Linked DNA regions of Homo sapiens: all the other regions are linked to region 4. The links come from fine-mapping of genetic effects on gene expression. A gene starts in region 4. Each other region holds a variant in brackets. All regions are shown on one strand. Distances are between the middles of the regions. Region 1 has its middle 78 kb from the start of TDRP. Region 2 overlaps FBXO25 (F-box protein 25). Region 3 has its middle 36 kb from the start of TDRP. Region 4 holds the start of TDRP (testis development related protein). Region 5 has its middle 49 kb from the start of TDRP. Region 6 has its middle 63 kb from the start of TDRP. Region 7 overlaps FBXO25 (F-box protein 25).

What was found.
Region 1: its variant is fine-mapped to the expression of TDRP in whole blood (TOPMed, PIP 0.97).
Region 2: its variant is fine-mapped to the expression of TDRP in whole blood (INTERVAL, PIP 0.96).
Region 3: its variant is fine-mapped to the expression of TDRP in whole blood (INTERVAL, PIP above 0.99).
Region 5: its variant is fine-mapped to the expression of TDRP in whole blood (TOPMed, PIP above 0.99).
Region 6: its variant is fine-mapped to the expression of TDRP in whole blood (TOPMed, PIP 0.98).
Region 7: its variant is fine-mapped to the expression of TDRP in lung (TOPMed, PIP 0.97).

The regions. Positions count from the first base shown.
Region 1 is chr8:620,916-625,463 of GRCh38, reverse strand. It overlaps a transcript of ERICH1 not described here. Among named protein-coding and RNA genes, the nearest start is that of TDRP, 78 kb to the right of the region's middle. The variant C/T (reference allele first, on the strand shown) is at 2,742.
Region 2 is chr8:436,825-440,824 of GRCh38, reverse strand. All of the region lies in intron 5 of FBXO25 (F-box protein 25), which reads right to left. Among named protein-coding and RNA genes, the nearest start is that of FBXO25, 32 kb to the right of the region's middle. The variant G/C (reference allele first, on the strand shown) is at 1,835.
Region 3 is chr8:578,173-582,720 of GRCh38, reverse strand. No RefSeq gene overlaps it. Among named protein-coding and RNA genes, the nearest start is that of TDRP, 36 kb to the right of the region's middle. RefSeq lists an enhancer at 4,307-4,548. The variant C/G (reference allele first, on the strand shown) is at 2,122.
Region 4 is chr8:542,341-546,829 of GRCh38, reverse strand. It overlaps TDRP (testis development related protein), which reads left to right and starts at 1,996. Exons shown (of 3, transcript NM_001384899.1): 1 at 1,996-2,180. The coding sequence starts at 2,073. RefSeq lists an enhancer at 517-1,017.
Region 5 is chr8:591,976-596,523 of GRCh38, reverse strand. No RefSeq gene overlaps it. Among named protein-coding and RNA genes, the nearest start is that of TDRP, 49 kb to the right of the region's middle. The variant A/T (reference allele first, on the strand shown) is at 1,906.
Region 6 is chr8:479,403-483,950 of GRCh38, reverse strand. No RefSeq gene overlaps it. Among named protein-coding and RNA genes, the nearest start is that of TDRP, 63 kb to the left of the region's middle. RefSeq lists enhancers at 3,903-4,402, 4,403-4,548. The variant G/C (reference allele first, on the strand shown) is at 2,334.
Region 7 is chr8:442,984-446,983 of GRCh38, reverse strand. The region is part of intron 5 of FBXO25 (F-box protein 25); the gene reads right to left. Among named protein-coding and RNA genes, the nearest start is that of FBXO25, 38 kb to the right of the region's middle. The variant T/C (reference allele first, on the strand shown) is at 2,004.

The sequences.
Region 1 (4,548 bases), 79 kb before region 4:
CCCCAGCAACCCCTAATCTTCTTCCTGTCTCTGTAGATTTGTCCACTTCTGTGGACGTGTCCTGTAGACAGGCACGACACTACCTGGCCTCCTTTGTCCGGCTTCTTTAACTCAGCGTCGTGGTTTCAGGGTTTATTCCTGCTGCAGCATAAACCACTGCTTTCCTTTTTGTGGCTACTATTCCATTGTTTGAGTAGATCATGCTTTATTTATCTATTCATCGGATAGGAAGCATTTGGGTTGTTTCTGCTTTTGGGTGATTGTGAATGACTCTGATATGGTTCGGATTCGTGTCCCCACCCAAATCTCATGTAGAATTGTAATCTCCGATGTTGGAGGAGGGAGCTGGTGGGAGTGATTGGATCATGGGCGTGGAATCCACCTCGCTGTTCTTGTGGCAGTGAGTTCTCAGGAAGCCTGAGTGTTTAAAAGTGTGTAGGCCGGGTGCAGTGGCTCACGCCTGTAATCCCAGGACTTTGGGTGGCCGAGGCAAGCGGATCACGAGGTCAGGAGATCAAGACCATCCTGGCTAACACGGTGAAACCCCGTCTCTACTAAAAATACAAAAAATTAGCCAGGCATGGTGGCGGGCACCTGTAGTCCCAGCTACTCTGGAGGCTGAGGCAGGAGAATGGCGTGAACCCGGGAGGCAGAGCTTGCAGTGAGCCGAGATCGTGCCACTGCAGTCCGGCCTGGGTGACAGAGCGAGACTGTCTCAAACAAAATAAAAATAAAAATAAAAATAAAAAATATAAAAAAAAAAGTGTGTAGCGCCTCCCCCTTTACTCTCTTCCTCCTGCTCCAGCCATGCAAGACGTGCCTGCTTCCCCTTTACCTTCTGCCAGGATTGTGACTTTCCTGAGACCTCCCCAGCCATGCTTCCTGTACAGCCTGCAGAACTGTGAGCCAATTGAACATCTTTTCTTTAGAAATTACCCAGTCTTAGGTAGTTCTTTATAGCAGTTCAAGAAAGGACTGATACAGACTGTGCTGTGAGCAATCACGTACAAGCTTTGGCGTGAATGTGTTTTTGTTTCTCTTGGGTCTGTGCCTAGGAGTAGAACTGCAGGTTCGTGTGGTGACTCTGTGTTCACCTTTTTGGGAAATTGCTGGACTGTGTTCCACATGGTTGCACCATCTCACATCCTTATCAGGAAAGTATGCATTTCCTTGGTTCCTCATCTCAGTGGTTCCGATATCTTCACATCCTCTCCAATCTTTACATCATCTATCTTTCTCATCTAGCCATCCTCACAGGTTTGAGCTGATGTCTCATTGTGGTTTCGATTTGCATTTTCTTGGTGGATAATGAAGTTGAACATCTTTGCGTGCGCTCATTGGCCATTTGCATGACTTCTTTAAAACCATGTCTATTCAAATCCTTCACTAATCTGCAGTTGGGTTTTTTATTATTGAGTTGTAAAAGTTATTTATTTATTTTGGATATTAGTCCCTCGTTAGATTAGATATATGATTTGCAAATATTTTCTCCCATTCTGTATGTTGTCTTCTTTATTAGTGGTATCATTTGCAACAAAAAAGTTTTAATTTTAATGTAGCCAATTTATCTACTTTTTTCTTCCATTACTAGTGCTTTTGGTTCATATCTAAGAGACCATGGTCTGATCCAAGGTCATGAAGACTTATACCTGTGTTTTCTTCAGACAGTTTTATAGTTTCAGTTATGACACTAAGGTCTGTGGTCCATTTTGAGTTAGTCTTTGTGTTAGTGTAGTGCAAGAAAGGGGTTCAACTTCATGTTTTTGCATGAAGTCCACTTGTTCCAGCATCATTTATTTAAATGACTGTTCTTCATGCACACAAAATGGTAATTCTGTGAGGTGATAGATGTGCTGATTAGCTTTATTGTGGTAATTATTTCACAATCTACACATATATGAAAACATCCTATTGTATAACCTAAATATATACAATTTTTATCATTGATACCTCAATAAACCTGGAAAAAACAAAAATTTTTAAATTAAAAAATAGAAGACTATTCTTTCCCTTTTGAGTTGTTATAGTATTCTTGTTGAAAATCAATTGACCATAAACATAAGCATCAGGCTGAGGAGGTTTCCTTCGATTTCTAGTTTGTTGAGCATCCTTTTATTATGAAAGGGTGTTGAGTTTCCTCAAATTTCTTTCCTGCGTCTATTGGGAAGCCACATGGTTTTTGTACTTTATTCATATGGTGTCTATTACATTGATTGTTGCCAAACCACCCTTGAATTCCTAGGATAAATTCCATTTACTCATGGTGTGTAATTCCATTTATGCATTGTTTTAAGTTGTTTGCTAGTGTTTGTGTCTATATTCATAAGGAATATTAGTCTGTAGTTTTCTTTTGATATCTTTGCCTGTTTTATCTCTCGTCATACTGTTCTATAAAATGAGTTGGGAAGTGTTAAACCCTCTTCTGTTTTTTTGGTAGGATTGGTATTGACAGTATTGGTATTGATTAGTATTGATGTTTTATTTATTTATTTATTTATTTATTTATTGAGAGCGGATCTCCTCTGTTGCCCAGGTTGGAGTACAGTGGTACAATCATGGCTCACTGCAGCCTTGAATTCCTGGGCTCAAGCAATCCTTCCACCTCAGCATCCTGAGCTGCTGGGACCACAGGTGTGCACCACTACACCTGGCTATTTTTTAAAAAAATTTTTTTATAGAGACACGGTCTCACTATGTTGCCAAGGCTGGTCTGAAACTCCTGGGCTCAAGTGATCCTCCCA[C/T]CTCAGCCTCCCAAAGTTCTGGGATTACAGGTGTGAGCCACTGTGCCCTGCCTTTTTAAATGTCTGATAGAATTTGCTAGTGAAGCTGTCTGGCTTGGGTTTTCAAGGGTAGTCTGTTTGGACTGTGATATCAAAATACCTCAGACTGGGTGCTTTATAAACAGCAGAATTTATTGGTCACAGTTCTGGAGGCTGGACAGTCCAAGATCACGTCACCACCAGATTTAGTATCTAGAAAAGCTTCGTTCTCTGCTTCATAGATATGGTGTCTTCTCACTGCATCCTCAACGTAGCAGAAGGGAAGGCAGTTCTTGGGGGCCTCTTTTATAAAAGCATTAATCCTATTCATTTTCACAGGGCCCTCATGACCTAGTCACTCTCCAAAGGCCCCACCTCCTAATAACATCACCTTTTGCTGATTGAGTTTCAACATATAAATGGGGGGTGGATACAAACATTCAGACCATAGCAAGGAATTTATTTATTTATTTTTATTTTTCTGAGACAGAATCTTGCTCTGTCACCCAGGATGGAGTACAGTGGCACAATCTTAGGCCACTGTAATCTCAAACTCCTGGGATCAAATAGTCCTCCTGCCACAGTCTCCCAAGTAGCTAAGACTACAGGTGCACATGCCACCACGCTTGGTTAATTTTTTTCATTTTTATTTTCTGTAGAGGTGTTGTCACTGTGTTGTCCAGGCTGGTCTCAAACTACTGGCCTCAAGGGATCGTCATGCCTTGGCCTCCCAACGTGCTGGGATTACAGGCATGAGCCACCACACTCAGCCACAAGGAAGTTTTAACATTATTTAATCTCTAATTGTTTTAGATATATTTCCTTTTGAGTTGGTTTGGGTAGTTTATGTTTTTCTAGGAATTGTATTTAACTTTGTTGGCTCATAATTGTTGATATTATTCACTTATAATCCTTTTTTACTTTTATAAGGTCATTATTTTATAAGATGTCCTCCCTTCCATTTCTAACTTTGGTAATTTAGTCCCTCTCTTTCTTTCGTAGTCTTTCTAAAGGATTGTCGTTTTGTCAGTCTTTTCAAAGAACTAACCATTGGTCTTGTTGATTTCTCTATTGTTTTTCTATTCTCTGTGTCAGTTATTTCTGCTCTAATCTTGATTATTTCCTTTCTTCTGCTGGTTTTTAGTTTGCTCTTCTCTATCTCCTTTCTCTTTTTAATTATTTAATTATTTTAATTATTTAAAAAATTTTTATTAACATATAGTTGACAAAAATTACATATATTTACTGTGTGATGTTTGATACATGTATACCTTGTTAAATGGTTATATCAAGCTAATTAACATATCCATCACATCACACACTTATCTTTTGTTGTGAGAAATTTTTCTAGTGTCTTAAGGTAGAAAGGTTATTGATTTGAGAGTGTCTTTTTTAATATAAGCATGTATAGCTATAACTTTTCCTCTGGGCACTGCTTTAGCTGCAGTCTATAAATATTGGCATGATGTGCTTTTATTTTCATCCTTCTCAAGTTTTTTTCTAATTTCCCTTGTAATTTCTTCTTTCATCCATTAGTTATTTAGGAGTGTATTGTTTAATTTTCACATATTTGTGAATTTCCCAAGTTTCTTCCTATTACTGATTTTTAATTTAAGTCTATTGTGCTCAGACAATATACTTTATGATTTCAATCCTATTTAAAGGTATTCGAGTTTATTTTATGGTGTATGCACCATATTGTCAGTCGTGGAGAACGTTTTATGTGTACTTGAGAATATGTATTCTGCTGTTTTTGGTGAAGTGTTCTGTAGATGCTGGTTAAATCTAA
Region 2 (4,000 bases), 110 kb after region 4:
TATTCATAAGTGGGAGCTGAACAATGAGAACACATGGGCACAGGGAGGGGAACATCACACACCAGGGCCTGTCGGGGGGTGGGGGGCTAGGGGACAGATAGCATTAGGAGAAATACCTAATGTAGATGACGGGTTGATGGGTGCAGCAAACCACCATGGCATGTGTATACCTATGTAACAAACCTGCACATTGAGCACATGTATACCAGAACTTAAAGTATAATTTAAAAAATTTAAAAAAAAGTCATATGACGCATTTAAGAAAGTCACTTAATTTACATCAGAGGAAAATCAAAGTTTATAGACTTAGGAAATAAAGTCGTAATGAAAAAGCTCTTCACGGCTGTCAGGACAGCTACGTTTTTGGTCTCTGTCCTTGACTCCATTGTGACCTTCAGCCCATCTCTCTGGGCCCCATTTTCTTGTCTTTACCTCTTGGGTCATAAATGGATCTCCATGCAGCTGTCATCCCTCTGCCTAAATCCTCCTCAAAAGAAAATCAAAATAGTGGCTAACACAGAGTACAGACTGTTCCAAGAGCTTCCTATGATGGAACTAATCTAATCTTTCTAACAGTGCTCTGAGGTAGATGCTAAAATCTACCAGATACTATGGATGTGATGATGAAGTCATATGCTTGAGATCCCTGAGTAAATAAATAAGAAAGAGACAGAATTCCAACAACGGCTGTGTGGCTGCAGAGCCTCTCTCCCTCCCTGCCTCACCCTCGAGTCCCCGCCTGGGAGGGCTCAGGGTCACTCACTAAGCATCTTTCCCATGCGCTGCTGTGAGGCTGCTGCTATTAAGTTGCTACTATGGAGTAGTCATTAGTAGAAATTATGAAAAAATTTGAAAAAAAATCTTCATATAGCCAGAGATTCTAGCCTGAGATGTCTTTCCTTATTTGCTTATTATTATTTGTAAAAACAGGGTCTCCCTATGTTGCCCAGGCTGGCCTCAAACTCCTGGGCTCAAGTTATCCTCCTGCCTCAGCCTCCCAAAGTGCTGGGATTGCAGGCATGAGTCACCGCACCTGGCCACCTTTCCACATTTAAGAGATCCTTGGGATACTGAGAAGCAGGAGTCCATCTCCAGACATGAGGAGCAGGTGGGCTAAAGGAAACAGGACTGGGGAGTCTTGGAGGGGCAGAGCAATGCCCAGGGACACAGAAACTTTTGAATAAAGATAAGAGAGACCGACTCTTCGCCTACATCTAAAGCAAATGAAAACATAAAAATAAATGATGGCAAGAAACTAAACTAAAAATACAGTACCCCTGGAAGTATGTGACACTGGATGTGCTATCTAATTGGTCCACCACAGGCAGAGAATGAAGTACTTCAGATAATTTATCAAATAACCAAAATTAGATATATAAACTTTACGATTCTGAAAACTTTTTTCCTACAGATGTGTGTACTTTAGGAAACAGAGCATATTTAACATTTTTATAAATTTCAGTTGCACACCGTGCAGCTTTCAGGAAGCTTTCACGCCGTGCACTGCCCTGCATGGACCTCCCAAGCCTCGGGCTGTTCGTGCCTGGCTGTCAGAAGCCACCTCCTGGCTGCCAGAGGGGCGAGGGGGCAGGCTGTTCTTCTCAGTGCTATAAGCAAGCCCAGGACTCCAAGGGAATGATAACAAATGTGTAAAAACCACAGTCACATTAACCTATAGGATCAGGACCCAGTTCTACTTCCTCCAGACAGCTTTTGGGTACTGGTCTCCCTCTCTGTGTTTACAGCTGTCCTGGGTTTGCTGGGCACCTCTGAGTTCATGGAAGTGCAGCTCCTCACTGCAGTTGGGACACACTTACTCCACTTTGACAAAGGG[G/C]GTGTTGTTTTCAGCAGTGGGTGAACAGCAGTGAACAAACCAAGCCCCTGCTCCTGGGGCTCAACTGGGATGGGGACGCAGACAACTTAAACACGTGGCCACTGGCACACCTAAGGGCCAGGGAATGCTGCTGACATGATGGGGGCGGTGAGGCCAAGGTCCCAGCCAGGTAGGCTTGAGTTGGTATTGCCACAACCCTGTGATCACTGGCAAAGAAGATTTCATGGTGGGAGTGTGACTAGAACTGGATTTCAAAGTTTCTTGAAAGTTAGAAAAGCCAAGGTACGTTGATCTGCACACAGGAGGTGCTCAGCGATGCCAGCACTGATGGGCTCCTCCTGCCTTGAGTGAAGAGCATCTGCCCCTGGACAGTGAACAAAAGGTGGGGCCATTTTATGCCTCCAACAGGACATCTGGCTCAAACTCAACTTCAAAGATTAGAGTAAAAACGAAACTTCCATTCCAAACTACTTAACTTTATTTTGGCAACTGGAAGAATCTGTAATTGAACACTAAATTCTACTACTAACTTTTATCCTAAGACTGTGTAGTAATTATTGATTAGTCTCAGTTTAAAATTGCTGTTTAGATGGAAAAAATGATTTTACATAAAACATTAGTTGAAAGATACAGGCTGGGCATGGTGGCTCACACCTGTAATCCTAGCACTTTGGGAGGCCGAGGCAGGTGGATCACTTGAGGTCAGGAGTTCAAGACGAGCCTGGCCAAAATGGCGAAACCCCATCTCTACTAAAAATACAAAAAAGAATTAGCCAGGCATCGTGGTGCATGCCTGTAATCCCAGCTACTCAGGAGGCTGAGGCAGGAGAATCACTGGAACCCAGGAATCAGAGGTTGCAGTGAGCAGAGATCGTGCCACTGCACTCCACCCTGGGCAACAGAGTGAGACTCCATCTAAAAAAAAAAAAAAGATACACATTAAGTTTTTCACACAAATTCTTAAGGGCAGATATTACTAAATGCCATTAGAAAAAAAGGAAACCTTTTATCAAGCATTTTAAAAAAATGCTTCTACATTTCTTATTTATAGGTATTCTAATAATACTGAGTGACATTATGGACAACTTAGACTAAATTATGGAAAATCAAATTATTTAGTAGAACTACAAGACAATCCTCTCAGTTGTTGTAGTAAGTGTTGCCATAAACATTTAAAACAGCAAAAAAATACCAAATACCTGCACAGTATGTATGATAAATGCATACGATAAAGTAAAAAAAAAAAAAAAATAGCACACACTGAAAGAAAGCCAACAGAAGAGGGCACTGGGCATGGGCCAGGGAGGTTAAGAATTGGGATGGGGACATGGAGGAGCCCAATCCAAGGCAAGACACAGGCTCAGGCTTTACCACAGTCACAAAGGCTGCTTCTTGTTTTTGTTTTTAGCAGAAGGTAAGCATGAGCAAATCACTTTTTAGAGGTAACTTTGCTGGACTTGTGAAGAATGGTGTGCAAGGTCCAGAGCGACTTCAGGAGAGGGAAGGTGGGATTCCCACAGAGCAGGAGCACAGATGAGCCAAGCAAGGCCCTGCTTGGAAGGCAGCAATCAACAGAGATGCACAGACCTGTGAGGGTGCTGGGACAGCCATGCAACACTGCAGCCCTTTTGCTTCCTGAGCTCACCAGTTCCCTCGCTCCACATCTGAGAGGTGCTTTGGAGAAACACAGCCCTTCTCAAGAGGGTTGCAAAGTAAGCTTAGTTGGTACATGAGTGCACAGCACATTTTAATTTTTATAGTTATGCATTTATATGTATTAGACAAATGACCGACAGAAAATTTACCATTTCACAGGTATTAGTGTTTAGGATGAGGCTAAAGTAGGTATTTCTGTTTAGAAAAGTAAATTTGAAGAAAAGCTACCCAGCAAATTATAGTAGTATGTGGTACACAGACAAAAAAAAAATTATGCAGTCGTCCAAATGACTGAAACTGATAAAATGCTGGTCCTGGTCTATGGATGCCCCCTCTGACAAAGCACAGAATACTCGCACCTTCTCCAGAGTCAGTGACCAAAGATGAGACAGCAGGGCACCCAGCACAGAAACCACCAGGAGCCAACGACTTCCTCCTGTGCTCCATCCTACTCTCTCACTCACACCAAGAATTAAATCCTTTTATGTAGACAGATGGTCAAGAATTGCT
Region 3 (4,548 bases), 36 kb before region 4:
TATTGAAAATGTCAACATACAGTCTTAGTACTGGTAAACAACCTTATCTCCTCCTTTCTAATTTGTATGCTCTATGTTGTTTCTTTTATCTAATTTCATGCACTGATGCCTCCAGTATAATGTTATTCAATAGTGCTGGTACTGGGTATTTTTGGTTTTTCTTGATTCCAGTGAAAGTACTAACCAACAAGCAAATTAATATTTCATATTAGATATGTTTTTAATAGTAAATATTTATCTCATTTTATTCAGTATTAAGGAATGTTTTAAAAATATGTTTACCACAATTCTGAAGATGATGTAATTTCTTCTCAGAATTATTAATATGATAAATTGTAATAATAGATACTCTATTTTAGAACCATCCTGCCATTCCTTGATCACCTTGCACTATTTTAAATGTGCTACTGTATTTCTACATTTTTCTTTTTCTCTTTATGTATTTATTTATTGCTTAGACCATTCTCCATAACAGACTATATTTTATTTACGTTTTTATTGATATGTATAGGTGAGATTGGGGACGACTTGTAGTTTTCTTTTTGGTGCAGTCTTTTCAGGTTTTGGTCACTAATGTTATTCGCTGTGTAGAAAAAAAATTGGAGGTTTACGTTCTTTTCCGTTGTTCTGGAAGAGTTTTTTAAATTATTGGAATTATCCGCTATTTAAAGTTTGTTACAATTCTCCCATAAAAATGTTTGCACCTGTTGCTTCTGGGTGTCGGTGGTGAGCACCTCTTTTTTAAAATAAAGTGACTAACTTAGATTTTCCGTCTCTTTTGAGATCCATTTGGTCCATATTTTCTTAGAAGATCGTCCATTTTTCTAGGATTTCAAGCTGATTTGAATAGCGTTGAGCAGGTGGTCTCATGATGCTTTTAATTTCATCTGTTTCCTTGTTATTTTTACCTCATCATTCCTTATTTTGTATACTTGTGCTTTTTCACCTTGTATTCTTGGCAACATTATCTATCAATTTATCTTGCTTTATTTTTCAAAGAATCGGCTTTCTAATTTGTTTGTTAGTCTACCTGTTATCTTTTTTCCTACTGTATTAGCCTGTGCTTCTCTCTTAGCTCCTTCCTTCTGGTTTCCTTCAGTTAATTTTGCTGTGTTGTTTCTAATTGTTGAGTTTGATGCTTAATTAATCAATTTTCACTCATTCTTTTTTATTGCTATAAGTGTTTCAAACTATGAATATTCATCTTCTAGCTGGATTTTTTGATGACTTCAATAAATTTGTTCTAAGATGCACATGAAAGCAAAAATGCCTATTAGTAGATGTAGTAACTCTTTCATTGGAGATCAAGGCAGGAAAATAACCTACCAATAACAAGCCACAGTACACAGCCATGGCATCAAAAGATTAGAGACCGATTATCGTTGAGGCTGCAGACGGACACATGGGTTATTTATACTACTCTCTTCTGTTATATATTAAAATTTTAATGATGAATTTTTAAAAATTAACTATAGTACTGATGTAGGAACATCTTCGTAGATGAAGGGAAAGGAGGGTTCAAAGTAGATCCACGTAAATGATGAAGAGGACATTACAGGACAATGGGAGAATGACAGTTTGGCCAGCGGTATTTAGAAAATCACAATGTGGATAAAACTGGTCCTACATTACAACATTTAAGCAAAGGTAGATTCCAGATAGGTTAATTTCTTAAATAATAAAAATGAAACTGGGAGCCGGGTACAGTGGCTCATGCCTGTAATCCCAACATTTTGGGAGGCCAAGATGGGAGGATCATGTGAGCCTAGGAGTTTGAGAGCAGGTTGGGCAACATAGACCCCATCTCCAAATTTTAAAAAAATTAAAAAATATTTTTTTAAAAACAGACAAGGACAATAAAAGTAAGGATCTTTGTAGGTTGGGAAATATTTTTTCAAACAAGAATCCCAAAGCAGCATCCATAAGGTTAAAAAAAAAGATAGAATTTTATGTCAACATTAATAATTTCCACTCAGTGAAGTCTATGGTAGGCAGAGTTCATAAACCCATCCATGCAGGGGGAAAATACTTACAGTGTTTCAGACAACCAGGATTATATTTAAAATATACAAGGAGTTCCTGCAAGTCATCAAGAAGCAGGAAACCCAACAGAAGGATGTA[C/G]GAGTGCTATGGATGAGTATCTGTGGTGAGATGTGACCCTCCCGGAGCTGCTGGGTCCCTGCTCCCAGAAGCTGTGGAGATGAGTCAGGGCACAAGGGCCTTTGCGGAGGTTCTGGGTGGGTGCCTGGAGAGGAAAGGAGCCTGGTTGATCCGGATGGGCCTCGGGCTGTTCCTGGGGCCGTTGCAGAGGGAGGCAGGGGCCTTGCCCAGGAACGTGGGGCCTCACCCAGGAATGTGGGGCCTCTGGGAGCTGGGAAAGGTGAGGAAGTCAGCTCTTCCTGGAGCCTCCGGAAGGAACGCCCCCCTCCCGACCCACGTTCAGACTTCTGACCCCAGAACTGCGGGAGAAGATAAGTGTGTGTGTTTAAGCCACTGCATCCGTGGTCATTTGATAGCCACCACAGGAAGCCAGTTCAAGAGACACAAGCACCATGTGTGTGCTCATAACCTCAAAGTTACTGCAAAGGAGAGAAATGCAGATGAAAACAGTGAGACACCACTTTACACCCACGTGTCTTGAAAAGCCCGTAAAGTCAAGCCCTGAATGCTGGTGAGCACAGTGGAGCGGCAGCACATCCGGCATGTGGGCGGCGGTCAGGTGGGAAGCATGGGCAGGTGCCGCGTGGCAAGCGGGTCCCCCGCAGCAGTGAGAGGCAACCTGCAGGCTCCCACAGCACCACGGACAGATACGCCAAGCGGAATGGAGAGAACAGAGTTAGAAGACAGTGGAGTTGAGAGCCCAGTGCTGCTCACAACACACCCAGGCACGAACACTGCAAAGCCACTCATCAAACGCTTCCTGAACCTGCACTTAGCCTGGGATGTGGGTGACCAGGCAGCGAATGGGACACTGAGTTCCCAGCCTGCAGTGTTGACAGGAGCACAGGTGAGCACAGGGCCAAGCACACAGGGACTGAGACATGAGGAGGGAGTACAGGCAGCCCAGGTGAGGCTGCACCAGCAAGTGAGGAGAGGCTTCTGGGGAGCACCACGGAGTGCCCTGAGTGGCCCTCAGACAGGAGGAGTAAACACACAGGACCAGGACCACCATGCCTGACGGGCCTCAGGCAGTGCATCTATGGACGGAGCCTCCCCACAACTGACACGCTATGCCTGAGTGACCCCCGCCATGCTGACTGGCATGTTGAGACCCTCAATGGCACTGCCACTCATGTCACCGGAGGGCACCTCCATCACCTGTGCCCAGCTGGGCTCCGTGCTGGGGGTGGTACTGAGTCCTGGGCCCTCTGGGAGCCGACTCTGGCACTCAAGCACACGTGAGCCGGCATGCTGGTGTCATGAGGAAGCCATCACCTGGCCCCGACCAGACATGGCCCGGTCACTCTGGGGCTTATATCCCTTCAGCGGGGACATAGAGATGCCAAGTCCATGCTCCCAACCAGGGACCAGGTGAGGGACACAGCGTTCGGTGCATGGCACCAAGGTACCTGGCACCGTCATGTCCTTGGTCCCATGTGCTGTGGGGAAGTAGCGTCCACACCATGGAGGGAGGGGTCCCAAGCAGACCCATGTCTTGAGCTGAGTCATTGTCCACACTGCCAGGGCCACAGGGCCCCATGGATCCACTCTCCTTGCTGGAGTCTCTGCTTGGGGCTGTGGCAGATGCTCTTCTGAGGCTCGGTAGCTGCTCCCTGAGAGGAGCGGCTGTGCCAGCAGCATCAGAGCTCAAGGTCGCTTGGGTTAGAGCTGCATTCCACGGGCTGCTGTCCTGTGTCTTTGCCAATCCCATTTCCATTAGTGTCTGCTGCACTCCACAGCCCTGTGCCCATCAGAGGCCTTCGGTCGCCTCACGAAGGACCCTGAGGAAGTGCAGGGCGATGGCAACCACGGAGCCACAGTGGCTGTTTCTAACTGCTCCAGCCACGGGGCGCTTTGAGGCCACACGGCCCACGCTTCTCCAACGGAAGAGACCAAAACTAGGAGGGGAAGGACCATGATTCAAGATACAGTGTGGTCTGGGCAGCGAATGTGTTTGTTAGCAAGGTCCAGTTCGGGAGAGGAACGATTTTTACCTGAGTTTAGTACCCACAGCTGGAAATGTGGGTGTTCATGGCGAGGCAGCCATGTGCTGCCACTTCACCTGCCGAGGGACAGGGGTCTGGAACGATGCCTTGAACAGTCTCCTGTGGACTTCAGCAAACCTGGCGGGGTGTTTGGTGGGAGGGCAGGGGCGGGGGTGCACCCAGCATGGTCTATGCCTGGTCTCCAGCGCTCAGTGTCATAGAGGACATCTGGTGACTTTCCAACTCGTTACGATCAATTTTCCTTCAATAGCCACAACGAAGCTGTTAAGCCCCAGAGGATGATCCTGGCAGCTTGTGGCACTTTGGGCTTTAAAATCAGTCACATATCCCAGTGGCTTTCACAGTAATTTAAAGGACTGTGCCGAGGAAAGTGTTTTGACGA
Region 4 (4,489 bases):
TGGATCCTGACTTTGTTTTGCAACCTCTGTTTGATAGTTTTTGACTTTCATCAGTTTGTGCTTGCAATGTGCTTATTTTGACAGCACCCCGGAGCCACACCATGCCATCTTGCATTTGCAATTTTCTAAGCCCCCTAGCCCAGGAGGCCAGGCCTATTAGGCCTTGTTTGAAAAGGAGCATATATACATTTTTAACATTCTTATTATTTGCGTGAAGATGAACTCTCAAATTTAGTTTGTACTGGGTGGAGTGGTCCTTAGTAGGCGCCAGTGTTTAATTCTATTTCGTGATGTTTGCGGCCGGTAGGTTTAGCGGTCACCGGGGGAGGGAGGCATGTGGGAGGGGTGCTGCCCTCCTCTCTGGGTGACGGTATAGTTAGGTTAGTATCGTTAGGTTATTATCTGGCTCTTCCCACTCGGCTGGGGGCTCCTGCCAGGCCCAGCCCCCGCCCTCCCTGTGCGTCCCGCGCCAGGGCCCCAGGTCCCCCCAGGCCTTGGGCACGGGCGCCACCCCCTCGGTTCTCCGGGATCCTGGCCGGCATCTCCCAAAGGCAGTTCAGAGCCCCTTTCATCTTAAAAGCTTTGCTGCTCATCACTTCTGGGAAACTCAAAATGTACATTTCATTTTTTTAAGAGTCGTAAAGTTACGAAGCTTGCAGTTTTCAAGGGAGCTCATAGTTCTGGATCCTCCTTCAAAATGCGCTTTTACATGACTGAACACATGAATACATATTTGGTGTAAGAAGCGATACGAAGCGCGTCGCGGGAAAAATTAACCTGCTGGGCGGGAGCGGACGCCTAGAATCCCCCGTTCCCGCGGCTCCGTCCCGGGATCGGGGGTCGCCTCGCCGGCTCCTTTCGGCCTGGGAACCAGGCGGTTCTGCCCTCAGGAATCTGTGGGCGCCTCTCCCGCTCCTGATTCTGACAAAGCCATAGCCACGCGGGAAAACGTTCTCCGGGCCCTGAGCCCCAACCTGGGCGCCGCGGGGGTCCCAAGGGTTCTGCGCGGCCCGGCACCACGGCCCCATCCCCGCCCCCCACCGCCGTCAGTCCGGGCCGAGCCCGCGGCGCCCCAGGCCCCAGCGGCCCCACCGCCCACCAGGGCTGGGCGAGGCTTCCTCCCGGCGCCCCCACTATCCCGCGACCTCGGGCGCCGGAGGGGATGAGTCCCGGATGCCCGGCGCCCAGGCCCCGAGGGATGCCCTGAAGCGCTGGGGTACAGGCGCCGCTCCGCGGACTGTGCCCCCTCCACCTTCCCCTCAGCCTTGCCGCGGCCTGAGCGCCAGCGGCGCGCATGCGCACTGCGCTCCCGGCCGTTGCCTTGGTGACCCGAGCGGACGTGGCCACGCCCTCCGGCCAGGGTCTGGGAAAGGGTGGGGGGAGGGGGCAGTCCGGGAGTAAGTGGGGGTCGGCGGGGGAGAAGGAGAGAACCGGGAGAGGGGAATTTGCGGGGGCCGGGTGGGGGCTCGGGGGTAGAGGAGGACCCAGGGAACCGGGGATAGGGCAGGGCTAGGGGCTCGGTGGGGGCTCAGGATGGGGGCGTTTCCGGGTGAGGAAGCAGCTAGGGGCGGGTAGGTGGGGGTCAAGGTGGGGGGACCAGGTGACGGGGTAGCCTGGGGTGAGGACGTCGTTCAGTAGAACAGTGAAGGGCGAGGGTCTCGCCGGGGCGGTGGCGGGGACCACACTGGGAGGAGGGGGCCGGGGTTGACCTTTCTGTGGGGGATGGGATTCGGAGCCCCGTCGAATTTGGGGGTGGGTCTGGTCCTGGGGAAGGTTTGGGGGCGGGTCTGGTCTTCGGAAGGGTTTGGGGCGGGCCTGGTCCTGAGGAGGGCTTGGAGCGGGCCTGGTTCTGGGGATGGTTTGGGGGCGGGCCGGGTCCTGGGGAGGGTTTGGGGCGGGCCTGGTGGGGAGGGGGCGGGCCTAGTTCTGGGGGTGCCCCGCCCCCGCCTAGCCCCGCCCGGCCCACTGGGCCCGCGTCCCGCAGGAGCCGCAGGCAGAGCGTCCGGCGGCCGGGAGGGACGCGGAGCCACAGCCCGACGCACGGACGGAGGGACGCCGGAGCCCGCCTGACCATGTGGAAGCTGGGCCGGGGCCGAGTGCTGCTGGACGAGCCCCCCGAGGAGGAGGACGGCCTGCGTGGGGGGCCGCCACCGGCCGCCGCCGCCGCCGCCCAGGCGCAGGTGAGGGGGTGCGCAGGTGGGGAGTGCTAGTAGGCCGGGGGCGCGCAGGTGGAGGGCGAGGGTGGGCGGCGCGCAGGTGGAGGTGCGGGTAGTTGGGGGCACAGTTTGGGCGGGCAGGTGAGGTTGGGGCCGCGTAGCTCCGGGGCGCGGCCCGCTAGGTGCCCGAGTGCGGAGTCGGAGAACTTGACCCGAGGCTCGTCCTGGGCTGAGTTGCCGCTGTGGTCCGCGTGGACCCACTCCCCGCTTAACTGGCCAGGGCTGCCGGCGTTCTCGCCGCTTGCAGGGGACCCAGTGCCCCCTGCACGTGTTACTCGGGGCGCAGTCCCAGGAGAGCGGGGACGCAGTGCGCGCACCCCGCGGCGCGGGCGTCGTGGGCCCGGGACGCAGAGGTCCACGCCGGGTGCTCGCGTCCCGGGTGGAGCTGGCGGAGAAGGCCTGAATCATCGCGCATCCGGACGGCCTCCTCGCGGACACTAAGCAGCTTTGGACGACCGTAGCTCAATGTTAAGTGGGCTAAATGTTTGTTTGCATAACAAGTATTTTCTTAAATTCTTGATTTTTCTGAAGGAAGCCGGCAGAAGTCCTTTGTACTGAAAACTGAAAGGCCTTTACCTGACGAGTGTAGAGATATGTTTGGTATGTCTAGAATTTTGTAATTGAAAGGGCTCCCAGGTGGGCCCTGTGTGCCTTAGACGTGCCCTCCCCCACCCCCTCCCCCCCCCTCCCTTTTTCCATTGCAGTGCTCTTTTTCATGTACAATGAAATTTAGGTCAGAAATCCAGCATTCTGGATCATAAAATATCTCTTTCTGTTAAACGTGTGGCAACTTCCTCCTGATGCTGTTAAGGCCGAATGGAATATAAGGATTTGTACCTGTCTTCCGAGGACTTGGAAATAGTTTCTGAGCAGAAGAGTTTCTCTTAGGGTCTGGAGTTGTTTCTTCTTGATAGAGATTTTCTATGAACGTTAAATTCCATTCCTAACTCATGGAAAATGGAGCCGATTATGTTAAGCGCTTAAATATGGTTACTATCTGAACTTGTCTGAGAAATTTCTTTTAGGTAGCGTTAGTGCTTACGTGCCTTTTTTTTTTTTAATTTCAGAATGTTATAGTTACTCTAAACAGCTCTCTTCTTGAATGTAATGATGAGAATTTATATGTGGCTACAGAGTTAACTGCAGAAGCTACAAATAACTAATATTGGTCAAAGATGAGCCATATTATTGTTTCTGGATAGAGCCTTGAGAATTTTAAACTGAGTCTTCCTATGTTCTCCCATTTTTCCTAATGAATCCTGAAACCCACTTTTTTTTCTTAAGTTTTTATTTTTTATTTTGAGACAGGGTCTTGCCCCGTTTACTAGGCTGGAGTGCAGTGGCGCAATCTCGGCTCACTACGGCCTCAACCTGCCTGGGCTCAAGCTATTCTCCTCTCTCAGCCTCTGTAGTAGCTGGGACTACAAGTGCGCACCACCTCACCTGGCTAATTTTAAAAAACCGTTTTTGTGGAAATGGGGTCTTGCTATGTTGTCCAGGCAGATCTGAAACTCCTGGGCTCACGTGATCCGCCCGCCTCAGCCTCCCAAGGTACTAGGATCACAGGCGTGAGTCACCACGCCTGGCCTTAAGTTCTTACTTTGAAAAATTTCTAACATGCGGAAAAGTAGAAGAATAGGAGATTCTTCCTCGTATCCTCCAGCTAGATTCAATTGCTGGCAGTGCCTTCGTTAAAGCTCCTTTTCTGATTTTCCCTTTACACAATTGTCATCTATACTTTTTTTTTTTTTTTTTTGAGATGAAGTTTCGCTCTTGTCGCCCAGGGTGGGGTGCAGTGGCGTGATCTCAGCTCACTGCACCCTCCCGGGTTCAAGTGATTCTCCTGCCTCAGCCTCTTGAGTAGCTGGGATTACGAGCATGTGTCACCACGCCTGGCTAATTTTGTATTTTTAGTAGAGACAGAGTTGTCCATGTTGGTCAGGCTGGTCTCGAACTCATGATCTCAGGTGATCTGCCCTCCTCGGCCTTCTGAAGTGCTGGGATTACAGGCGTGAGCCACCGCGCCTGGCCTGTTATCTGTACATCTAAAGTGTGTGTTGGTTTTGGGGGGAAAAAACTTTAATAGACTCTATTTTTCAGGTATCCAGTTTTAGGTGCCCAGCAAATTTGAGGAGAAAGTACAGAGAGTTCTCATGGATCCCCAGCCCCCCACTATCATCACCCCCACAGAATGGTGCGTTTGTTACAATCTGTGGACCTACACGGGCTCATGGTCCTCACCTGGGAGGGCTCACTCGTTGTGCATTCTGTGG
Region 5 (4,548 bases), 50 kb before region 4:
TCCCTGAGGCCCCCACTGCCTCAGCTCCTAAGGCTCTGGCCACATTTCCCTGTGTCTCCCTGCTCCTCACCTTCAGGGCTGCCTGAGTTACCCTGTGTGGAAGGAACCCTTTGAGACCTGCAATGTCTGGAGACGTCGCCATTCTCTCCTTGACCTTTTCTTTCTGGGACCAGGATTCTAGGCTGCAAGAAATGTCTCTCAGAACTGAGAAGGCTTCACTTCCCGCCCTGCAGACTCCAGCGTTCTGTAGGGAGGTCTCAGCCATTCCAGTTCTGCCACGAGAGTGCTGGGGCCTGTGGCTCTGGCCCCTGGGCTGCTGGTGAGCTCTGCCTGAAGTGTCTCAGCAATGAGGATGTGGATGACACAGGTGTTTTTACTCTGTTCTTTCATGCATGCGCTACTCTCTCAATCTGGGCTCCTGTCTGCAGTTCTGGACCACTTGTTTGAGTTATTTCTTTGCTGGTCTCTCCTGTCTGACCTCTCTGGTCTCTCTTCTCATTAAGTGGGTATTGGAATTTCTGGGTTGATTCTCTATTTCTTTTTTCATTCCTCCCTAATTCTTCATCTGTGCATCTTTTTATTCTGTTTCTGTGAGATGTAAATGAGTCTAATATTCAACATTTCTATTAAATTATTTATGTCTATTCTACTTTTAATTGAAAGATTCTGTGTGTAGTTTTGCGGTGTCTGCTCTTATTTCACGGCCACCCTGTTTCTCTGCGAATATCATAGGTTTGTCTGCGTCCTACTCCCTCCATCCACTCGGCTTCCTCCAGGTTTCTCTCTGGGTCTGTGTCATGTTAGGGTCTCCCTGGGTCTCTGGCCTGCATCCTCCACACAGACCCCCCACCCCAACCCACTCACATGCAGGAAGCAGCCACATGTGCTTCCAATGGGAGTGGATGGTGTGTGGGGAGGAGATGCAGCCGGGCTCTTTCCCATAGAGGTTTCCTCCAGTCATCTGCATCCCTCTCCTGAAGGCCTTGCTGGGCATCCCTGCTGTCCTGTGGCCTTCCTGGGTTCCACTAACTGCTCAGGCATGTCCTTCAAGACTGGAGTTTGTGCTGGTGGCAGGGCACTGCAGCTCTCCCATGGTATTCCAAGACTGCCTGCACGTTTGCCATTAGTTCTTTTTTGATTATTGCTTTTCAATAGCAGTTCCTTAATTAAACTTTTCTCGATTTACCAAGCTTGAGCGTGTCATGGATTTCCTGCTGGGACCCTGGCTGATAACAGCTCTGCAGCCAAGTGCCCAACAGCTCTGCAGCCAAGGCCCAACAGCTGTAGGAGGCGTATGGGGGCTTGCTTACGAGTGGCCCTCACCTCACAGCAGTGGAGATGGCCCAGTTCTTCCACTGGGGACTCCTAAGTCCAAAGACTGCATTTGTAGATTTTCCCTCCACAGCCAAGAGAGAGGTCCTTTAATTCTTTGACCTCCTGCCTGGGGGTATGAGCCTGGCCTTTGACATTCTGGGAGCTTGGAAGGTGGGTGAGGTATCCCACTCTCCACAGGGGGGCTCCACTCACCCCTCTCAGCAAGGTGTCCTCCACCCTCACTGCCCAGCTGCCCCTGCATGCCTGAGGTGCCTCACAATCACCCGGGCTCCTTGACACCCCTGACTTCTGAGGTTTCCTGAGTCTGGCGCAGATCCCCTGGGTGGTAGCTGGGCTTCCCTGTTCCTGCTTTACCTGAGATTGCTCAGTCCTCCCTCCTGGCCGAGTCTTCCTGTCTTCTCCTCTCTGAGCTTTGTTTTTATGCCTTTTCAATCACTTTATTGCCCTTTTGATTGACAGGTGAAGGAGCAAAGATGGGAGGTCTCTGTCTCTCCATCCTTAGCCCTGCTTTGCTTTAGAGCAAAGATATTGTTGGTTAAAAAAAAAAAAAGCCCTTATCCTTGAGTGATG[A/T]CCCCCCAGTGTTTAGGAGCAGACGTAGAGAGAAGAGCAGCTTGAGTCTGAGCCACCCAAGGGGTGGACAAATGGACTGGGGAAGGCATCAGGAGCTCCTTGCACGAGGTCCTCTTGTTGTTCTTGTTCCTGTCACTCTTGGCTGACGAAGAACCAAGAAGGAGACTTCCATGATGACCCCGGAGAGAACCACAGTGACTGGCAGGAGGCAGGGGAGGTGAACAGGCCCTTCTCACCAGGGACCCTTGCCTGGCCTCACAGGTCCGAGCCTGCTCCCACGACCAGGTCAGCCAGAGGTGTTTACATGAGAGGGAGAGTGAGGAACACCAGTTTCCGAGGTCCCGGCTGACCTTGACGGTGAGCAGAGGAAGGTTCTCAGGGCCTCAGTGGCCCTTGGAGAACCTGCACTCTAGGGCTCATAGGAGGCACCGCTCTCTTGGAGGCCATGGTGGTGATGAAATGCTGCTTCAGGGGCCTTCTCAGCAACCCATGCCAGTGCCAGGCCTGTGTGGAGGAAGAAGGGAGAGAATGATGAAGGTGAAACCAAGGAGTTGTGCTTAAAACGTCCCCTCACTGAGCTCTCCTCACAGTACTCACTCACATCCCTCCCCTCACAGCGCCCCCTTCACATCCCTCCCCTCAGGGCGCTCCCTTCACATCTCTCCCCTCACGGTGCTCCCCTCACAATGTTTGCTCACATCCCTTTCCTCACAGCGCCCCCCTCACATCCCTCTCCTCACGGTGCTCCCCTCACAACAGTCCCCTCACAGTGCTCCCGTCACAGCACTCTGGCACAGTGCTCCCCTCACATCTCTCCCCTCACGGCGCTCCACTCACATCTCTCCCCTCACAGCGACCCCCTCACATCCTTCTGCTCACGGCACTCCCCTCACATCCTTCCCCTCACGGCGCTCCCCTCACGGCGCTCCCCTCACGACGCTCCCCTCACAGCGCTCCCCTCACATCCCTCCCCTCATAGTGCCCCTCTCACATCCCTCCTCTCAGGGGCTCCCCTCACATCTCTCCCCTCACAGCGCCCCTTCACATCCTTCTGCTCATGGCACTCCTCTCACATCCTTCCCCTCGTGGCGCTCCCCTCACAGCGCCCCTCTCACATCCCTCCCCTCAGGGCGCTCCCCTCACATCTCTCCCCTCACAGTGCCCCCTCACTTCCTTCTGCTCACGGCACTCCCCTCACATCCTTCCACTCATGGCGCTCCCCTCACATCCCTCCCCTCACTGGGCCCCCCTCACATCCTTCCCGTCAGGGCGCTCCCCCCACATGTCTCCGCTCACGGCGCTCCCCTCACAGCACTTGTTCACATCCCTCCCTTCACAGGGCCCCCCCTCACATCCCTCCCCTCACAGAGCTCCCCTCACAGCGCCCCCTTCACATCCCTCCCCTCACAGAGCTCCCCTCACATCCCTCCCCTCACAGTGCTCCCCTCACAGCGCTCTGGCATAGCGCTCCCTTCACAGAGCTCCCCTCACAGCGCCCCCCTCACATCCCTCCCCTCACAGTGCTCCCCTCACAGCGCTCTGGCGCAGCGCTCCCTCACATCCCTCCCCGCGTTCCCTCACAGCGCTCCCCTCACAGAGCTCCCCCCTCACAGCGCTCCCCTCACTGCCCTCCTATCACAGTGCTCTGGCAGGTCTAGAGTCAAGGTGCCCAGGACATTCCAGCCTCCAATGTGTTCCTTTTTATTTATTTACTTTTTGAGACAGGGTCTTGGTCTGCTGCCCGGGCTGGAGTGCAGTTGCGTGATCTCTGCTGACTACTGCCTCAGCCGCCAGGGTAGCTGGGACCACAGGCACCGCCGCGCGCTCCTGGCTTATGTTCTTTTATCCTCCTCTGCAGTACTCTTTCCTCTTCTCCCTCTCAAACCCAGATAGATTACAACCCTTGTTCTCTCTGCTTTCGTTCGGGATATCTCCTGTCTCCAAAATCGTAGAACTGACTCATAAAATATGAGAGCCAGGAAAGACTTTAAAGACAACCTCATCCTGTGAATTTTGGCACCAGATATGAACCTGAAACCTTAAAGTTCCCAACACTGCAATGGGTCAGGCCCTGCTGCGCTGGTGGAGATAAAACGTACTGAGCAGAGGAGAGAAGCTAACAGCATCGGAGAAGCTGACTGGGCTTCAGGGCTACGTGCTGAGGGGAGCAGCTGGGTGCAGAGCCTCGGGAGTAGCCTGTGTGAGAGAGACAGAGAGACAGAAAGAGGAGGAGGAGAAAGAGAGATAATCTGTTATTATGTACCACAAATGTAGCCTCCTCTCAAGATTTTGGGAGAGATTTCAGAAAAGATACATTTGGCTTTTTTCCTTATTTGACCCTTTTTTGTCCTTGTTAGTTACTGCTCTGTGTCACTGCCTTTCCAGATGGGATTTTTCATGCTGACAAATAAATTGTGAACTCCTGGGGGCGCCCTCCTCGCTTGCATGCGGATGTCTGGCTCCCATGCATCTCCTCCAGACCTGGCTGCCTGCTGCTGTGACCTCCACGGCTTTGTTCTTCATGAGTGTGTTCCATCACAGTTCCTTGGCCACGTCCACACACACAACGGTGGATTCATTGAAGGGCCTGTGCATTATTCACTCCTGTCCCCTGAGCACAGGAACAGACAGACACATAATAAA
Region 6 (4,548 bases), 63 kb after region 4:
GAAGGCACATCCTCCCCAACCCTTGCCTGCTGCTGAGGTCGGGGTCTGGGGTGCTCTTGGTGGAGGAGATGCAGCTTTCAGGCCTGCATCCCAGCTCTGCATGCAGCCCCTGCCACCTCCCACCCAAGTGCCAGGAAGCCACTTTGTCTCCCTCCATTCTACATGAAAGCACCTTCCCAAAGCTTCTCTAGTGTTTCAGGGTCTTGGCCCAGGGTGGTGCTTCCACTGGGACATGGTCCCCAGGGTTTGTAGGGCCCAGGTTTGGGTCCCGTGCCGGCTGCCACCCAGCCCCAGATACCACGGCTGCTTCCTGTGCAGCCACCGCATGACAGCCCCCCTCACAAGATGCCCACAGGAGATGCCCGTGTGACAGCTGCACTGGCTCCTTCCATGGCTGAGCACTGGGCCCAGGGAGCAGAAGGCACTGGAAGCAGAAGGGAGGAGCCCTGCCCTGGCAGCATGTGCCAGTGGGGTTCTGAAATGCCCTCCCGTTTACATGAGAAAAGTCGGGGGGTGTGGTTGGTGTGGGCCTTCTGAACTTCAGTTCTTGGATTTCTCATTTTTGTAACGCGAGTGCTATCTATGCTATAACATTCTTAATACTCTTTAAAATTGATTCACTTTAAAGAATTGCTTGCTGAGGAAGCTGGTGGGTGAGGACAGGGTTGCGGATGGTGGGAGGCCCTGTGAGGAGGGGCGAGGGGCTTCAGGGCTGGAACTGCCGAACAGCCAGTGGAGGGGCCAAACCTGGGGAGCGTGGGGCAACTCGTGTGGGAGGTGTTCTCGGGCAGGCTCACCTGCAGCGTCTTTAAGCATGCGCTTTCATAGAATCCTCTTGCAGATCCTGGGGCACCTGTGCCGCCAAGAGTCCTGCTCACCTGGCTGGCTCCTTGGTGCCCTGACCCATGGCTCTTCTCACCTGTGTGCCACCCCCAAGAGGCTTCTTCTTTCTTCTGAAACAGGCCCTCATCTGTGAACCACTGTCCATTGTGGTCCCCTCCTGTTCATTTTGTTCATTTTCTGCTCTTCTCTTGCTTGTTTCTCCCTTGACGCCATAAAGTCAATTTCTCGGTCTAAATCCTGGTTCTCAACCCTAGAGAGGATCAATGTCCCCATATCAACAGGAAGTAGAGCCAGTGACATTTCTACCTCACCCAGAGTGAGGACCAGGTTGGTTGTGTGAGGTGAAGCAGAGCTCTTGCGGGGGGCTAGTGTCATACCCCTAACCCCGCCTTCCATTAAGGCCAAAGCTGGGCCCTGCGGGGCTTTGTCCCATGGCCAGACGTTTTCATCAGAATTAGGTGCTGTTTTCTTCATTGTGTGGAGAGTGGATTTGATGGAAGAAGGTCATGTAATTGGGGGAGGGGGGAGCCAAGTCTCTAGACAGAGTAGGAAAACTAGTGGGGTATTGAGTTTTGGAGACATTTCTAGGGCAACAAGGTATCTTTAGGAATTTGGTCCATGGCAGCCTTGGGCAGATGTTTAAAAAAACAGACTTGTACCTGGAATTCGCTTTTAAAGTCTGCCAGCTGCCCAGGGTCATAGGTTCATTTGCCCAGGCTCCTGCATATTCTAATTTTATCCACTGAGGCCCAGGACACATGGAGTCTCTGCTCAGTCTCTATCCTTAGAAGGAAGCTTCAAGCCGGGCTGTCAGAGCCGACGGTAAACACATGATGAATGTCCCCGCCGCCCTGAACCGTCTTCCTGAGATTCTGTGTGCCTGCCCACTCTTCCTTGCAGAGTCTGAAAGTGCATTGCAGCGTGTTCCTCCGGCTCCCAGAATCGGACATCCGTTTCATCTTGGAGGAGCACATCCTGAATAAAGGTTATTCTAATTTTAACAGCAGCAAATGCTAAGCTCAATGGTGAACTAGAAGGGCCATCTCCCAGCAAAGCCTAATGCATCTTAGGAATGTGTGACCATTTATTTTTTGTTTTTATTAAAAAACCTTTTTAGAGACAGGGTCCTGCTCTGTCACCCAGACTGGAATGCAGTGGCATGATCAGGGCTCAGTACAACCTCCAACTCCTGGGCTCAAGTGATCCTCCTGCCTCAGTCTCCCGAAGTGCTGGGTTGTAGGCCACTGCACCCAGCCATTGTGACAACTTAGTGATTTTTCCCTTAGTGGCTCTGACACAAGAAGCAGACAGGACAGGATGGGGTGGAGGCTCATGGTCACAGTTTGAGTTTTTTCTCCCTTTAAAGTATTTTCCATTCCTGAGGCCAGTGGGATGAAGGAAGGGAAACAAATCACACTTAATCCTCAGATAGTGGTTAATTCTCATAATTAACCAGGTGTATTTCAATTTGGCTTTTTCGAGATGGGGGG[G/C]TTGACAAGCATTTCAGTTTTTAAATTTTTTTATGATGAAAAATAAAATCTATGCAAAAGTATGTAGTACAATGGACATCCATAAACTCAGCTACTGCGATTCAATAATGGTTGTATTTGTCATATTTGCTTTGTGTGTCCATACATATATTTAACCATTTAAAAGTAAATTACGGACACCGTATCACCCCCAAGTACTTCAACATATATTTCTAAAAAAAAAAAATGATGCTGCCTGCATAAGTAAATATGATTGGCACACCTAACAAAATTAATTTCCTGTATCATCTAATACATATATATATGTTCCCAATTGTCTGGAATGTACCTTTTAGCTGTTTTTTCCCAAAACCATGATCGTGCATCATATATGGCTGTTCTATCTCTGAAATCTTTTGATGTTGGAAACAGGAGCCCCCTGTCTCCCTTCCCTCGCAGCTTTTCCTGAACACACTGCTGTTTGAGGTGTTCAACTCACTCCTCCATCCTTAGCACTGCCTACAAACAAGAAATTGGATCTAAAGGCTCGGTTAATCCAAGCTGCTGCTTCCTTTCGGGGCAGCTCCTGGGCCCCTGTGCACAGCAGGGCCACATAGTGTCTGACATCCACCATTAGTGGTAACATTAGGCTCAGGTGGTAACAACTGGATCTTTAACCTGGCTCCCCTTATTCCTTAAGCATCTCTCAGTTGTGCCCTCTCTACGCTTCTCGAGGGCTGTGTCCTGGCACCTCTTCTGCAAGCAGAGAGCCAGGGATGTGGCCCGCCACCTGGGACAGGTACCTGCTGTACTCCCTCTCAGATCCAGAAAAGAGGTCATAGCAGTGAAAATGCAGGTGAGACCATTTGATTCCACCCCCCAACCCGCCTGCAAATGTAAGCAGCTTTGTGGGAGGAACTAGTAAAAAAATTTGCATGGGAATTGGAAACATCCTAACCACCTTGAGATCAGACGACACTGCTCTGTTTCCATGCTACAGGGATCCTGTTAAGTGTGACCTGTGTCACAGACCATCGCCTTCCCCTCGGTAGATGCTGAATTGAGGAGGAAGGAGAGGAGAGCTTGAATGAAGGCTGCATTAGTGCACGTGGCTCACATAACAGCCAAGATGCTACAGAGCCCCTTGCTTTCCTCACTAAGGGGTAGCATGATTGTGTGACCTTTGGTTATAAAGCTGTGTGAAACTCAGTAAGTCAAACTTAATTCAAACTTCAAGCCATTGGAACTTTACTCTGGCCTCCAAAAGGGAGGAGGGAAGGAGAAAGGGGACAAGGGTTGAAAAGCTACCTATTGAGCACTACATTCGCTGTTTGGGTGATGAGTTCAAAAGTAACCCAGACCCCACACCATGCAACATACCCATGTAGCAAAGGGGCACATGTGCCCCCTGAAACTAAAATTTAAAAAAGCACTCAAAAAATATTGAGTCTTGGAAGGAATGCAGCTATGCAGCTGGAGCCACGGAGCATACAGCTGCAACCTCTGCCTTTCTTTCCCTATAAACGACCAAATGCATCAGAGATGAGGCCCCTGAGATCACTGCTCCTCACTTTGTGGAGTGCAGCCATCTGTAATGGGTCATATTGCCATAGCGCACACACTGGTCTGTGGAAAACGGCAAGACTCTGCGATATCTCGGCTCCTGCCTATATGAGTGAAGCCTTAACTTTCCACTGTGGAACGCTGACCCTGTTTGTGTAGAGCCCATCCCCCAGGTGGCCATCCTCAAAATGTGTGCTTGAATGTGCTAGACACTTCCCCGTATTTTCTGAGCCTCTTCATTTAAGGCTGACAGCTGATAAAGTTGCACCAGCTGTCCATCAGGTAGATGAGAGTCCAGGGCAGTGCCCAACTCTGTGTAGACATGGGGGCCCCAGAGAGGTGCCTGTCTGGGTTATGTACAGAAAAACCGGTTTGCTAAAGAAGCTGGTGTTTTGAAATGTGACACTTAAGTTTTTAGAGGGAAAATGTAGTAATTGGGGAGCGACCGCACCTCCGGCTATCCCCACGCATGGCTATCCTTTCAGCCACACGTGTGGCACAGTGTGTGCGCCGTCTGCTGGAAGAGCAGGGTTTGGGGAAGAGGTTAACAGATAAGCAACATGAATGGCGCTGAGCCCGTTGGAGGGGCACGGGCAGTCCTGAGTGAATGTTACATAGGAGAGCCAGGGTTGATGTGGCTGCAGCCTCGTCTGCTCTCACACCAGCAGGTGAG
Region 7 (4,000 bases), 100 kb after region 4:
TTTTAGAGTCTGTGAATTGCATCTGCCTCTTATTTCTCTGAAAATGGAGTTTTTTCATCCCTTCCTTCCAATTCTCCTTCCAGCCTTTCTTGATTTCCAGAATGAGAAATCACTAAGTCACATACTGAGCCACAAATAACATTATAAATGTGACAATTACATGATAATCTTTGGGGGAAAAAACATTCTGTGATTTCTAACATATTTACATAAAAATATCTTACACTAAAACACACCAGTTGAGGGCACTGGCCAGAGATAAGATCAGGTTAGGCCAAGCAAAGCTGAGAAGACCAATGTTAAAATTTCAATCCTGTTCCTTTATCTTTTCAAATTAACTGAATATTGTTATTAAATTCCTTGTTTTAGTGTTGAATAGCACCCCTTTTCCCTGCCTCACTTTAGAATCAATTTAGAGACAAAGGATTCAGGCCAACTGAGGTTATCAGCATTATCGCTAATAATAGCTGGACTGGCGGATGCGATTCAGATTCACACAACAATGGATTTCCTAATCTGAATCCTAGACTGAGATGAAGCCAGCCAGCCGTAAGCACTGCTTAATAACCAAAGCCTCCCCAGATAGGCTTCTTGCCCTACAGCACTAAGACATGAAAGAAACAGACCAAAATGTACAAATATCTTTTATTCCTCAAAGGAAAAAGAAGAGTTACACATGCCTGTTTCTCACCAATAAGAGGGGTCAGGGCAGAGTGAGTCTGGGAGAGAGAGTTCTACCACCACGGTTCCCAAAGCATCGTCTAGGGGCCTGTTAGGGGAGCCCGAGGTCTAAACTATTTCCACAGTTTCACTAAGATATGATTTTCCTTTTCCATCCTCACATTCGTTAGTGTGCAGTGAAGTGCTCCAGAGGCCCCAGCATGCTACATTACAGAAGACTGAACTCAGGAGAGATGAGGAATAATCCCCTCCATCCCACCAGACACCAGGAGGGTGTGCCAAGGTGTGAGACATACAGTCCGACATGCTACATTATGGAAGACTGAACTCAGGAGCAGAGATGAGGAATAATCCCCTCCATCACACCAGACACCAGGAGGGTGCCAAGGTGTGAGACATACAGTCCTTACTGTTTTTTTGTTTTGTTTTGTGAGACGGAGTTTCACTCTTGTCCCCCAGGCTGGAGTGCAATGGCGCGATCTCGGCTCACTGCAACCTCTGCTTCCTGGGTTCAAGCGATTCTCTAGCCTCAGCTTCCCCAGTAGCTGGCATTATAGGTGCATGCCACCATGCCCGGTAGTTTTCTGTATGCCTGGCTAAGTTCTGTATTTTTAGTAGAGACAGGTTTCACCATGTTGGCCAGGCTGGTCTCAAACTCCTGATCTCAGGTGATCCGCCCACCTCGGCCTCCCAAAGTGCTGGGATTATAGGCGTGAGCCACTGCACCCAGCCCAGTCCTTACTTTTAAATAAATGGAGAAATATTTTTAAAAGTGTTTTAATTTCTAATGTGGCAAACATTAATAGATATAACTCACATGACCAAAATCTCTTTGGGGTCCTCAGTAATTTTAAAAAGTGAAAAGGACCCCTGAGACAACATTTGGGTTTGGAACTGCTGCTCCACTAGGGGAAGAAATACCAGAACAGAGAATATGTGTTCCCTGGGAGATAAGGTCTTCCCGACTACCTCCCCTCCTATCATCGAAATAAGTTTTCTACATTTCTTTAATATCATGTTTTAAAATTCCTTTTAAAAAGACTGAAATCAGCAGCAGAAGGCAAGGGATTAGCTTAGCACGGTCAGTTTAGACTAGTTACCCACAGAGGACTACAGAATGGACATCACGAGGCATAGGTAAGCATAGAGGTGAGAAGGGCCGTGTTCACAGTTGACAAGATTACATTTCAGGTTAAACTGGTAATTAAGATAACAGGGCGAAAGACAATTAACAAAGAAACTGTAATCATTCATAAGCCTCTAATTAGCCATAAAGCAAAGTCTGTTGGGAATTTAATGAACATTTGTTAAAAACACAAATA[T/C]TGTAGGAAGTTTTTTATACAGTCATGGGTCGCTTAACAAGGGGGATACAATCTGATCCGAGAAACGCATTGCTAGGTAATTTCCTCACTGTGTGAACATCACAGAGTGTATTACACAACACCTACACAGCTAGGCTACAGACCTATACAACATATTAATGCACTGAACAGCAACTGTAACATAATGGCAAGTATCTGTATATCTAAATATATCTAAACATAGGAAAGGTACAGTAAAAAAAGGAAATAATCTTATGTGGCCACGACACTACACGCGGTCGGTCATTGACCAAAACATCGTTATGTAGTGCATGACTGCGTATCTCCTCAAATCTGACAATTCTAAACAAGTAAAGATGTGGAAGAATTAGATAAAGAGAAAGAAAGTACATCCTTCAAATAGAGAATCTGTATTTTTTTTCACACATCAATAGAATATTTATAAAAATCAATTATAAAGAAGGCCACAAAGGAAAACTTAATCATTTCAAAGAATTAGAGATCTTAAAGGCCAAACTCTCTGGTGGTAATATAATAAAACTAGAATCCAATAAAGTTAAATAAAATCACAGCTATTTGAAATTCGAGGTCCACTCCTGAACACCCTTGGATCTGGGAGTAAATTGGCACTGCATGTGTGCCTGTGCTCCTGAAGGGCCTCACATACATGGGGAAGGGCAGAGAAAGAGAAACAACAACATCCACTACCTCTATTTTTAAAGTCAGCCTTACTACAAAATACAGAAAGTATTCTTCACTGGGCAGACCAAATCAACTTTGCTCAATCTTCGCCTTTGGGTTCCTTCAGATTTATAATGAACTGTAAGCATTTACTGAGTGATTATTAGAAAGGCACCATCTGAAGTACCTGATGCCCTTTCAATGCTGTAATGCCCCTGTGAGGTAGGTCTTACTATTATCCCTGCTCTAGAGATGAGAAAACTGAGGCAGGGAGAGATGAAGAAGCTGGCCCCAAGGCCACAGCACTGAGGAGGGAGGGGCCAGACCTGAAGAGCAGGGGGATCCCACAATCTGTGCTTGTGCCTTCCTGCTCTGCTGCTTCCCAGCTAGCCTGTGTGCTGGACACAGCCCTCAGTGATCTCAACTTTGATTATCTAATTTTAAAAAGACTTCTCAAGTTTATTGTCTTTTACAAAAAAGGGATGTAATCTAGCAAGCCAAAGCAGAACCAAGCAGACTTTGTAGTTTTCATCAATTTTCTGGACGCTCCAGCCACTTTCCTCAGGTCCTTTAGCAATGTGTGGACTGCCCGCCCACCGCTGCCCCGAGGTAGGGAAGCACCACACTACAACCTCATGCAGGCTGGATTAAAACATGCCCTCCACTTCAGGCTTAGGAACCAGCGCCCCTCCTACAGCTCACAAGTTGCTCAAGCAGTGGTCTGTGAGAAGTCATTCTATTTTTGGGGTTGTCCCTTTTCTCTGCTTTTCTTGGGAACCATTTTGACTCTGTCAAATGTTCACTGACTTCTAGCACTGGCAGAAAGAACGTCTGCTTTTTTATCTGAAACTAAACTGTTACACAACTTATAATTTTATTTTGGTAAAAGCATTCTTAGTTGCTGTGTTTAGTCATACTCTACAAATTATCTTGTTGGTAGGATAAATATGGTGAGAATTAAAGAAAAATGAAGATGGTAGTGGATATTTGCAGACTATTATCAATACCGGCATTTCAAACTTCCAATATAATTCGGATACTTGCCTGGAGGACAAACTTTTTTTGGCATGCCGTATAATGAGGAGCCTTATATTCCCAGTGTGCTCAAACTGCCCTGACACCACCTATCCACCGTCGTCAGCAATCTATGTTCAATTTTTCTTAAAAACATCAGTTACAAGGTCAAATTTAATTCAACTGAGGTCAGACTCTCAGCGGAGCTGAGGAGCACTTCCTTCAATGGAAATGGCCATTTCTGAGTGGTGACAACACTGTCATTTCTTGGACCTTCTTTAACAAATCTGTTCTCAGGAGCG